Homo sapiens: one gene and its partners. The protein of the gene in region 2 purifies or fractionates together with the protein of the main gene of each other region. This does not show direct contact. Each region holds a gene or a part of one and is shown on either strand. Other genes may lie near its edges. The genes, in order: UBAC2, SLC38A12 and ABCB10.

Region 1 (3,652 bases), on a different chromosome or scaffold from region 2:
TCAGGAATTTTCACATAAAATGCTGTCAAGTCAGGTCTCTCAAATCCTACCTGACCTTTTAAGTCTAGGACTCTACATATCTCTGTTAAATTCCATCTGATCATTTTCCAGTCAACCAAAATGAATTATTTTCAATTCTCATTTTGTTATCTACTGTTAATCATCTCCCTCAAACTTGTATCATGCCTAAATTTGATTAGTAAACCTCTACAACTTTGTTCAAGTTATTATTGATGAAAATGTCAAACACGTCAGGTCAAAGAGCCCAGAACTCTGTGTTCAAGGGGTTAATCAACATTTTTAATCAGTTTCAAACCCACTTCATTGCACTATCATTATCCATTCTGCATGTCACCAACATCTCTCATAAGCTGATGAGATGTTGTCAAAGGTCTTGGTGATCTCTTGCCAACAGGATTGGTTTGGTGTCCTAGACCACAGCTGTCTTTTCAACGTTCACAAACCATCTATTTGATAATAATCTGTTTAAGCTTTTGCCAGATGTGAAACTTCAATTCTGCCACTTGGTTCTCAGAATTCACACTTTCCTTTTCCTTAGGAACATTTTCAAGCTAAGTGTTCCTCCCTGTGCTTTCTCAAGCCTCCATCAGGTTGTGCAGGGAGAGGGGCTGGAGGACTCAGGCTGGATATGTGTCATGTGGAAGGAAAACTCTCTCTGATCAAGGTGGTCTTTCCAATCTTGGGTGGAAATAACCTGTATGATGTTCCCTCCAGTTAAGGACCATTGTCATTGGTGGAGATAACTCAGGCCAAACGGGAGCTGGCCTGCCTTCCTTCCACCTACTATCCACCACCATGATGCCATGGCCCCCAAACAACTTGGCCACTCTTAATGACGTTTATTTAAACGGCTTGGAAAAGCTACCTTTACTACTACCTGTAGTACTTCAAGTGCAGCTGAGGACTGGCTGCTTCTTTGCACCCAGCCAGCACAAACGAATCCATTTGCTGTCCACACTCAGCAATTTGGAGATCTGGCAAATGACGATTCATAATCTGGAGTGATGAAGTGTGACTTTAGGCCACAGCTCCACCTGGCACTTGAGCTCTCCCTCCACTGATGATACATTTGGTTTGGAATCCACAGGATGCTGATAATGGGCTGGCTACACACAGGTCACCAACACAGGGCAGCAGCATGGACTGCATGCAGGCCCTGCCCTGGAGAGGGAAGAACCCCTTAGGTCTGGGATGGCTGGGCTGGGTTGTAAGTCACGTAGGTGACATCCTAGAGTAAGAACGAAAGCTTTCTATGTACACGAGACTTCCTTCTGAGTTCATTCTCTCAGACATGAACGACATGTGCCGCGGTGCTGGTTTTGACAACTAAGACTGGCTTTTCACAGGTCTTGGCAGAAGAGAGCGTCTGCTGTCACAGCTTGCAGCGGGCTCGCTCTTCATCCTCTGCGGGGCAGATCATGCCCCTTTAGCCAAAGCTGGCTTCAGAGCTTTAAGTGATTTTTATGGGTGAGAAGACAAGTGTGACAGGAGAACTTTCACTGCCCACTGACCTGTTATTTTCACCAGATTAAAAACTATTGCTAAGTAGCAATAATGTTAGCACAGTTCTTTAAAAAGAATAAACAATTACACTAAGAAAGGGCACCTGAAGGTTTCCCATAGTGTCCAAAACTAAACATCCATGGCAAACTGAAACTGCATGCTTGGGCTTGGGTATGCGATGACAACCAGCCAGCAAGGACGAGAAGGGTCAGGGGATAGGTGTTCCGATGGGTGCTTACCCAATACTCCCCAGTGGAGGGGTGCAGTGCAGTGCTCACAGCCGTGCAAGTTAGCCAAGTGGCCCCTGCTGTCCTTTCTTTATGTAGTTTCAGAGGTTCACCATATAGACAGTAAGAACTGGAGCAAAAACTAGCAGCACAGAGAACAGTTGTCTGTAGGGCTCTTTGGTGGACACTAACAATTACTGCTGTGGCTCTCACTATTCCTCTGCTCAGAGAAGCCCAGCACGCCCAGTCCCCACACATCTCATTACGGTCTCTCCTGGGAAAGCTTACTCGGCATGTGAAGCATCAACTCCTGTGCTCAAATTACAGAAAGACGAAATTGAGGCCTGCGCAGACGTGCAGTCAGGTAAGCAAAACACACGTTAAGCATTCCTAATCTGAAAATTCAAAATCGAAAATGCTCCAGAATTTGAAACTTTTTGAGTACCAACATGGCAGTACAAATGGCAAGTTCCACACCTGACCTCATGTGATGGGCTGCAGTCAAAATGCAGGCCACAACATGTAGTTTATTCAGTGTCTCCAAGGGAAAAGAGACCCTCTCACCCTCCTTCAGCTGTGACATGCCTTTTCTGCACATGCCCCGACTCCCCCACGCAAGCACATGCCAGTGGGCAGGTTCCCCACAATGACCTGCATGGGGCCAAAACCCACGTGCGTCACTCACTGTGCTTTTTTGCTTACTTTCTGCTCTGTGTTATAAAAATGTTGTTAAAATATCTAAAAGGTGTGCAGATACCCTCTGGGTAACAGTGATAAGAAAAAGATTTATGTTTATCTATAGCACAGAAAGTCAAGCTGTTGGAGAAAGTGGAGAGCAGTGTAAGTGTGAAACGTCTTACAGGAGAGTATGGTGTTGGAGTGACCACCATATAGGATCTGAAGAAACAGAAGGATAAACTGTTGAAGTTCTGTGCTAAAAGTGATAAACAGAAATTAATGAAAAATAGAGAAACACTGCATAAAGCTAAAAATGAAGATCCTGATCATGTACCGAGGATGGATCCCTTGGTGTTGCAGTGAACACCTGCCACTTAATGCTATGTGGGTCAGGAAACAAGCAAGGATCTATCAGGATGAGGAACTGAAAATGAAAAGGAACTATGAATATTCAACATGTTGGCTGCAGAAATTTAAGAAAAAACATGAAACCAAATTTTTTAATGTGGTGACAAAGCATCATGAAGCAGCAAAGAAATTCATTGGTGAGTTTGCCAAGGTCATTGCTGACAAAAATCTGATGCCAGAACAAGTCTATAATGCTGATGGAACATCACTGTTTTGGTTTTATTGCTCCAGAAAGACACAACTACAGCTAATGAGACAGCCCCTCCAGGAACTGAGGACATCAAGGGCAGAACAACTTTGCTGGGATGTGCTAATGCAGCAGGCATGCATAAGCGTAAACTTGCATGACAGGCAAAAGTTTGTGTCCTTGCTGTTTTCAAGCAGCGAATTTCTTACCAGACCATTATTATGCTAACAAAAAGGCATGTTTAACTAGGGATATCTTTTCTGATTGGTCTCACAAACATTTTGGACCTGTGGCTTGTGCTCACTGCAGGGAAGCTGGGCTGGATGATGACTGAAATATTTTGTTATACCTTGACAACTTTTCTGTTCATCCTCCAGCTGACATCTCATCAAAAATCATGTTTATGCCATGTACTTTTCCCCAAATGTGACTCCATTAATTCAGCCATGTGGCCAAGGTATTCTTAGATCAATGAAGGATAAATATAAAAGTACCTTCTTGAACAACATGCTAGCAACAAATGAATGGGTATGGAAGATTTTCAACAGGCGTTTAGCGTGAAGGATGCCACACATGCTGTTGCCAATGCATGGAACACAGTGACTGAGAACACAGCTATGCAAGCCTG
Region 2 (3,652 bases):
CCTAGTCCCCTCGCCCTGTTACGCCTTCCTCTTTCCACAGCACTCACTGCCTTCCGGCTCACTCTTCCATTTACCCATTTATTATCTTCACTGCTCGCTGTCACTTCTCCCCACAACATAAAGTCAAGTCTGCACAGGCAGGGATCTTTGTGGTGAGGCCCCCTCAGTACCCAGAAGGGTGCTTGGTGCACAGATGGGGCAGGGTCACCTCTCAGGGGAGGTGTTTCCAGGTGCTCCTTCCCATCTCTTTTTTGCAGCTTGTGGATTCCTACCCGGTTGAGAGAATGGAAATGCCTAGTCCTAAACCCCTTCCTGGCCTGGGGCACTTGCTGACAACTTCAGACTAGTCCCTACGTGTGTGGGAATCCCCGAGAAGAGCCTCAGGTGGAACCCACCCTCCCTGAAGCACCGGCTGGTGAGGCCCACACACCTGGCTCAAGGAGTAGGCGTCCCTGAAGACCTGGGGAGGTACACAGCAGGCGAGTGCCACACTTGATCGTGCACCCAGGCGTGTGTTTATCACCTACTTCGTGAATTACCTTAAGTAAATTCTAAATTCCAAACTGATTTCCCATGTCACCTTAAATGTTTGTTAGATCTTTTTTCTGTGGCTGGGTGGTATTTTCTCAGACAGCAAAACTTGATGGTAATGTTAATAAAGCATACATTTAATAGCAGGGAGGTAAACCTGCCAGGGAAGAAATAGGCCAGCATCACGTGAAACATTCCAAAGCCTAGTGGATGTCCAGGTTTTTATCTGATCAGGGCTGTGCAACCGCTCCACAAAGACAAGCCACCAGGAGGCCTCTGTGACCACTTTCCCCTCTCTGAATACCCTGGCAAGGACTCACTGAGCTCGATACGGGGTAGACAGGTGTCTTCCCACCCCCTCAGTGCCCTCATGTTCGGGCTTCCTGGGCTGACTCCCTCCTGCTCCACTCCTGGCCCCTGTGGGGAAGTCCCCGCTGCCTCTCACCTCATGAAGCCCAGGAACACCAGCAGGACGAGGCTGACAAGCCACCCGGCAGTGGCGAATGCCTTGGGCATGGTGAGTGCGCCCGTGCCCACGATGAGGTTAAACATGTACACCAGCCCAACCTGGAACCGACAGAGGCAACATTCAAGCCCGGAACTTAATCAACTTCTCCCCTTAACAGCTCCCAAGGAACGACCCTGGTGATGGCACCACTGTGGAGGCCAGAAGGCCACACTGTAGACAGGGAAGGAGGCAGGACAGGAGAATTACACCTGGGGCCTAAGGAGCCAGGCTTGCAACCACAGAGCCTGTTAACCAAACATGAACACATGGATGACTCAAGCCCTGGGGTTCAGTTTCAGTCTCTGCTCCTGCTGTCATCATTGCCGTCCCCTCCTAAAGCTGCATCGCAGATGCTAGCGCTCTACTCAACCAGGCTGTAGGCTTCCCGGGGACAGAGCATCATAGGCGGGGTACCTGGCACAAAGGTGAGCGCATAATGCTGACCTCAAAGAAACACCCACTTTTCCAAGATCACTGAGCATGTGACTCAAGGTCCTCGCCATTGTCCTTTGGGACACGGATATTCATGCTTCTCTTTCTCCACCCCTCTCCCCATACCAACTTCAGGGTTTTTAAAAAAAAAGTTGAGGCATAATTCACATACCATAAAATCCACCCATTTAAAGTACACACATCAGTGGGTTTTAGTAATATTCACAAGGTTGTGTGACCAGTGCCACCAGCTAATTCCATTTTATCACCCCCCAAAAAGCCCATTTCCATTAGCGGCCACTCCCCATTCTTCCCTCCCCGCTTGCCCACCCAACTTCAGGGTGATTTCTCAGGTCACTGACTTCAGGTTTTAAACAACCCACAGTTTACAATGATTCCCTTTCTAAGATCTCAACCATGAATTTCCTGTCTGACCTGAGTTCCTCCCCTTCTGTGATGCTCTCCAGTCCCCCAGCCTCCTCCCCTGCCAATCCTCCCTCCCAGAAGCCCACCCCTATTTTGGCATCATCTGCTTCCTTTCTTGGTGCAATCGGCAGGCTCCACCAAGCACACGCCTCCTTTCCTGGTGTATTTCTCTTAGTATCAACCTTTCTGCAGACCTCAAGTCCAGCTGCCTGCTAGTCACCTACACCTAGACATCCATCCCATCAGTGGCCCCATCCTCCTTCCTTCCCCTCCAGATCACAGTTCTAGTGATTTTATTTCTGGAGCTTCTTTAGTGGCTAACTCTGGCTCCTATCCTTATTTACAATTCAAATGAGTCTTTCCGGCCTGGACTGGTGCAGTAGACTCCTAACTGGTCTTCCTGTACTCTGCTAAATTGGGTGACATACCGTATGCTTTACCACCTGTTTCTGATCATTAAAAAAGACAAACACCTCATCTCTGGGAATGCTTACCCATTTCTCATTTTCACTCCTGTTCTTAGAAAGATGCACTTTTCTCTATTTTAAAGCTTTTCTGAGATAGCCACATGCTGAATTTGTGATAGAAACACAAAAATTGGTGCCCATTCTCCCAGACTCCATCAATTTTGTTTTTTTTTTTTTAAAGCATGAAGAGGACGGATGCAGTGGCTCATGCCTGTAATCCTGGCACTTTGGGAGGCTGAGGTGGGTGGAACACGAGGTCAGGAGTTTGAGACCAGCCTGTCCAACATGGTGAAACCCTGTCTCTACTAAAAATGCAAAAATTAGCTGGGGGGTGGCGTGTGCCTGTAATCCCAGCTACTCAGGAGGCTGAGGCAGGGGGATCGCTTGAACCCGGGAGGTGGAGGTTGCAGTGAGCCAAGATTGCGCCACTGCACTCCAGGCTGGGCAACAGAGCGAGACTCCGTCTCAAAAAAAAAAAAAAAAAAAAAAAAAAAGAAAAAGCATGAAGAAATAGAGATTGCCAACTCCTGCCTTGGAGCTATTGGCTGGGAGAAGGAGGGGCTGGGCAGTGGTTAGAGAAGACAGGCTTCCCAGCAGGTGCTAACTGGATATTTGAGAGCAGGACAAAAGGGAGGCCACCCTGTGGAGAGGAAAGTGCTCTGCCTGCAGTACCTGAATACCTGACACAGGACCAAAGCCCTCTTGTGCCACCTCCCCAGCCCCTCCAACTCCTACCCAGCCTTCAGGGCCCATTCCAATGCAACTTCTACCACAAAGTCCTTCCCAGGCTCCCAAAGTTGTCCTGCCTCCCGCCTTTGAATCCTTGTGGCAACAAAACTTCTTATGCCCTCTCTTGGGTTTTAGATATTGGCATATTTCTCTTTTCCCTGTTACTAAATATGAAGCTCACTGTGGCCGTGGGCTGCGTCTCACTTCTCTCTGCATTTCTCAGGGTGTCTGGCACACAGGCTGGAGATGGGAACACCCAGCTGATTGCACTGGACCCTGCTTATCTCTGACGTGAGTCTGAGAGTCTTCACCATCCAGTTTTGGATGTCACAATCTCAATTTTTATTTTTATTTTTTGAGACGGAGTCTCGCTCTGTTGCCCAAGTTGGAGTGCAGTGGCGTGCTCTTGGCTCACTGCAACCTTGCCTCCTGGATTCAAGTGATTCTCCTGCCTCAGCCTCTGGAGTAGCTGGGATTACAGGCACCCACCATCATGCCTGGCTTAATTTTGTAGTTTTAGTAGAGACAGCGTTTCACCATGTTGGTCAGGCTGGGTCTC
Region 3 (3,652 bases), on a different chromosome or scaffold from region 2:
CTCGCTCTGTCCCCCATGCTGGAGTGCAGTGGTATGATCTGGGCTCACTGCAACCTCTGCCTCCCAGGTTCAAGCGATTCTCCTGCCTCAGCCTCCTGAGTAGCTGAGATTACAGGCACACACCACCACGCCCGGGTAATTTTTGTATTTCTAGTAGAGACGGGGTTTCACCATGTTGGCCAGGCTGGTCTCGAACTCCTGACCTCATGATCCACCTGCCTCAGCCTCCCAAAGTGCTGGGATTACAGGCATGAGCCACGGCACCCAGCCCGAGGGGCTTATTTTCAAACCTCCCATAAGACCGACATGATTGCCCTTACAGCTCAACTTCAACTATAAAAGAAGAGTTGAGAGTGCTTGATCTAAAATAATCTGTAACTCCAACATCTGGGCAGTCATTGGACTCTATCCCCACTTAATGGGATGCCAGGAAGAGAGGAAGAGAATGGAGCCTGGAGCACATGAGATTTGAGCCCGAACAAACCCACAGGACTCTACATCTTCTTCAGGATGACTCACATCCCTGAGAGGAGAGACTGTTACCTGAAGTTTGCATGAGGTAGACACGAATGGCATTGGCGGCAGCACCACACAGAAACACGGCACTGAGCCCTAGGCAGAGGCGGGTCAGGTTGTCGCTGTAGTCCACAGTGGGGTTGGTATAGATGACATCAATGATCTTCCCCAGGAAGAAAGGGGCAGACATGGAGATAACACTGGACATCGTGAGAAATCCAACCGCAGCTAGAAAACACAAGCACTCTCAATGTTCAGGTTGCTTCAGCAAAGGGGCTGCGGTGCTGAGTCCAGGAGGCTTCCTTGCCAAATAAGCTGTTGTCAGAGTATGCGTTGATCTCAGTCTCTAGCAGTTTCCTCCCTTTTGCTCCTCGATCTCTGACTCAAGGGAAGAACCAAATGGTTCCAGGTGAGAACAAGCAGGTTGACTAAGGAAGTGAGTGATCATATCTGAATCAGAGAAGATGACTTCTTAGTCTGATCAACTCTTCCTCACCAAGAAAAACTGGGAGCCAACTATGGAACCGTTCTGGCCAGCCCCTTCCTCCCCATCTCTTGATTTTGGTGTTCATCAGATTGTATTTTTCCTCCATTCATGCTATACATGCTATACTCCTTGGCATCTAACTATATTGTAACTTGAAGATCAAGCTGTCTAGTTAAAGCCCTTGATTACATCTAGTATCTCAAAACACTCTGTCTACGGCCATACACTCTGAACGCACCCAATCTTGTCTGACCTCAGAAGCTACGCAGGGCGAGGCCTCACTAGTACTTGGATGGGAGACTGCCTGGGAATACAAGGTGCTGCAGGCTTTAAACAAACAAACAACCCATTCCAGATAACTTTTGGAAAACCGTTTCACGGATCATTACACAGAAGCAAATGTCAATAAAACATGTGATATATTGCTTCTTAATATTGTATTATTGCTTTGCGAAATATCAACATGATATGAAAATAAATATGAACAGGATTGTTCATGCACCTAAAAAACAGGCAAACAAGATAGAGTCTTATCTGAAGAGAAAATATTGGCTTGGCACAGTGGCTCATGCCTGTAATCCCAGCACTTCAGGAGGCTGAGGTGGGTGGATTGTTTGAGCCCAGGAGATCCAGACCAGCCTAGACAACATGGCAAAACCCTGTCTCTACAGAAAATACAGAAACTAGCCAGGGTGGTAGCATGCACCTGTAGTCCCAGCTACTCAGAAGCCTGAGGTAGGAGGATTACTTGAGCCCAGGAGGTCGAGACTGCAGTGAGCCATGATTATGCCACTGCACTCCAGCCTGGGTGACACAGCAATATGCTGTCTCCAAAAAAAAAAAAAAAAAAAAAAATTTTAGAAAATCCACATAAATAGGCCAGGTATGGTGGCTCACGCCTGTAATCCCAGCACTTTGGGAGGCCAAGGCGGGTAGGTCACTTCAGCTCAGGAGTTCAAGACTACCATGGCCAACATGGTGAAACCCTGTCTCTACTAAAAAAAAAAAAAAATACAAAAAATTAGCCAGGTGTGTTGGTGCGCACCTGTAGTCCTAGCTACTTGGGAGGCTGAGGCAAGAGAATCGCTTGAACCCAGGAGGTGGAGGTTGCAGTGAGCCAAGATTGTGCTGCTACACTCCAGCCTGGATGACAGAGCAAGACTCTGTCTCAAAAAAAAAAAAGAAAAGAAAAGAAAATCCAATTAGTAACAACACATATCACAGATAACTGCATTCATAATAAGACAAATGCATTTTTTTAAAAGATAGTGATGGGGGTCTCACTATGTTGCCCAGGCTGGTATCAAACTCCTGGCCTCAAGCAGTCCTCCCATCTCAGCCTTGCAAAGTGCTGGGATTGTGGGCATGAGCCACTGCACCCAGCAAAAAGTATTACTGTTATATAACCTTAATAAAGAGTCCAGAGCAAACTCAGTGCCAACTGGACATTTAGTCGACAAACAGAGTTCTAGGAAAAACATGGGCCTTTTTAAGTGGGGAACATTTAGAAAAATTGCTCTTGCCCCTCCTTAAGGTCTTTATAAAGTCCCCTCCCCAAAAAGGCCTGCTCTGACAGCCTCACTTAAAATACAGACACCCTACACTACCCACCTCACTCCCTCTCCATTTGTGTTCTCGAAGCTCCTACCTTTCAGCATTCTAAATGTTTCACTTGTTTATTTAGTTTCTCTCTCCATTAGGACATAAAAGATTTTGGTCTGCTTTGTCACTGATTGCCTACAGTGACAGGCACATAGGAGAATCTCAATCACTATTTTGTTGGATGAACAAACAAATAAATTGAACTTTGGCAATGGAAGCAATAACGTCTATCAGATCAAAATTCTTCAATAGCCTAAGCAGAAATGTGAATTCTGGCAGCTCATAAAGTCCATATGCCTGGCTTAAAATCCCATAATCACAATCTAACTGAATAATAGGAAGCTGGGCAAGGGTCACTTCATTTTGACGTAAAGCCCGGGGTCTTGTTTCAAAGCACCATGCTTCTTACAACAGTGCCCAAAGGGGCTTGAAGGCCCAAAGGACAGGGAGTGTGTCTAACTTGAGGTTCCGAGTACCTCAGCCTCGATGAACTGGCAGCTCCAGAAAGAGTCATCCTGGCAAATTCAGGATTCAGCAGAAAATTCTTTTTGTCCTTCATCAGTAGCTAATCTCTGTTCTTTCGCCTCAGTGAATAATTCCGAAAGCACAGTGTATGTGACCTGCTATATAAAGGTCCACCTCTTCCCTCCTCCTCTAGTTTTCTAAATCAGTTATGATTCTACAATACGAATCCATATGACATGAATGAAATGCCCCCTAATTATGATTCTGAGTCTTGTTCTCACATAGTAATAATGCTGATTACAAAGAGGAAGTAATTTAGCTGAATCCAAATTAATTTCAGGATATCCCCCCACACTTTTACTTTTTAATAATCATTTAAAAATTATCAGCTTGTTTTATTGTCATTTGCTTCTTTGTCCAATTTGAATGTAAGAAAAGTAAAATATTTTTTGGCTTTTAGTTAACTGGATTCTTGTTAATCAAGATCTGACTACATATCACTGTCTTCTGATATTAATGAATACTTTAGACTTGCTCCATAAACATCATTTCAGATTCCACCACAAGCCCTGGACACAACTG

Evidence for each region.
Region 1: the proteins of SLC38A12 (region 2) and UBAC2 purify together in Homo sapiens (affinity purification with mass spectrometry; one large-scale study listed by BioGRID and IntAct). This does not show direct contact.
Region 3: the proteins of SLC38A12 (region 2) and ABCB10 purify together in Homo sapiens (affinity purification with mass spectrometry; one large-scale study listed by BioGRID and IntAct). This does not show direct contact.

The regions. Positions count from the first base shown.
Region 1 is NC_000013.11:99,378,713-99,382,364, reverse strand, and holds part of UBAC2 (ubiquitin-associated domain-containing protein 2 isoform 1 precursor), read right to left. Parts: intron 1-3,652. UniProt on the Homo sapiens protein: Restricts trafficking of FAF2 from the endoplasmic reticulum to lipid droplets.
Region 2 is NC_000017.11:74,782,928-74,786,579, reverse strand, and holds part of SLC38A12 (transmembrane protein 104), read right to left. Parts: intron 1,099-3,652; coding exon 977-1,098; intron 1-976.
Region 3 is NC_000001.11:229,548,691-229,552,342, forward strand, and holds part of ABCB10 (ATP-binding cassette sub-family B member 10, mitochondrial), read right to left. Parts: intron 895-3,652; exon of another isoform or gene 745-894; coding exon 544-744; intron 1-543.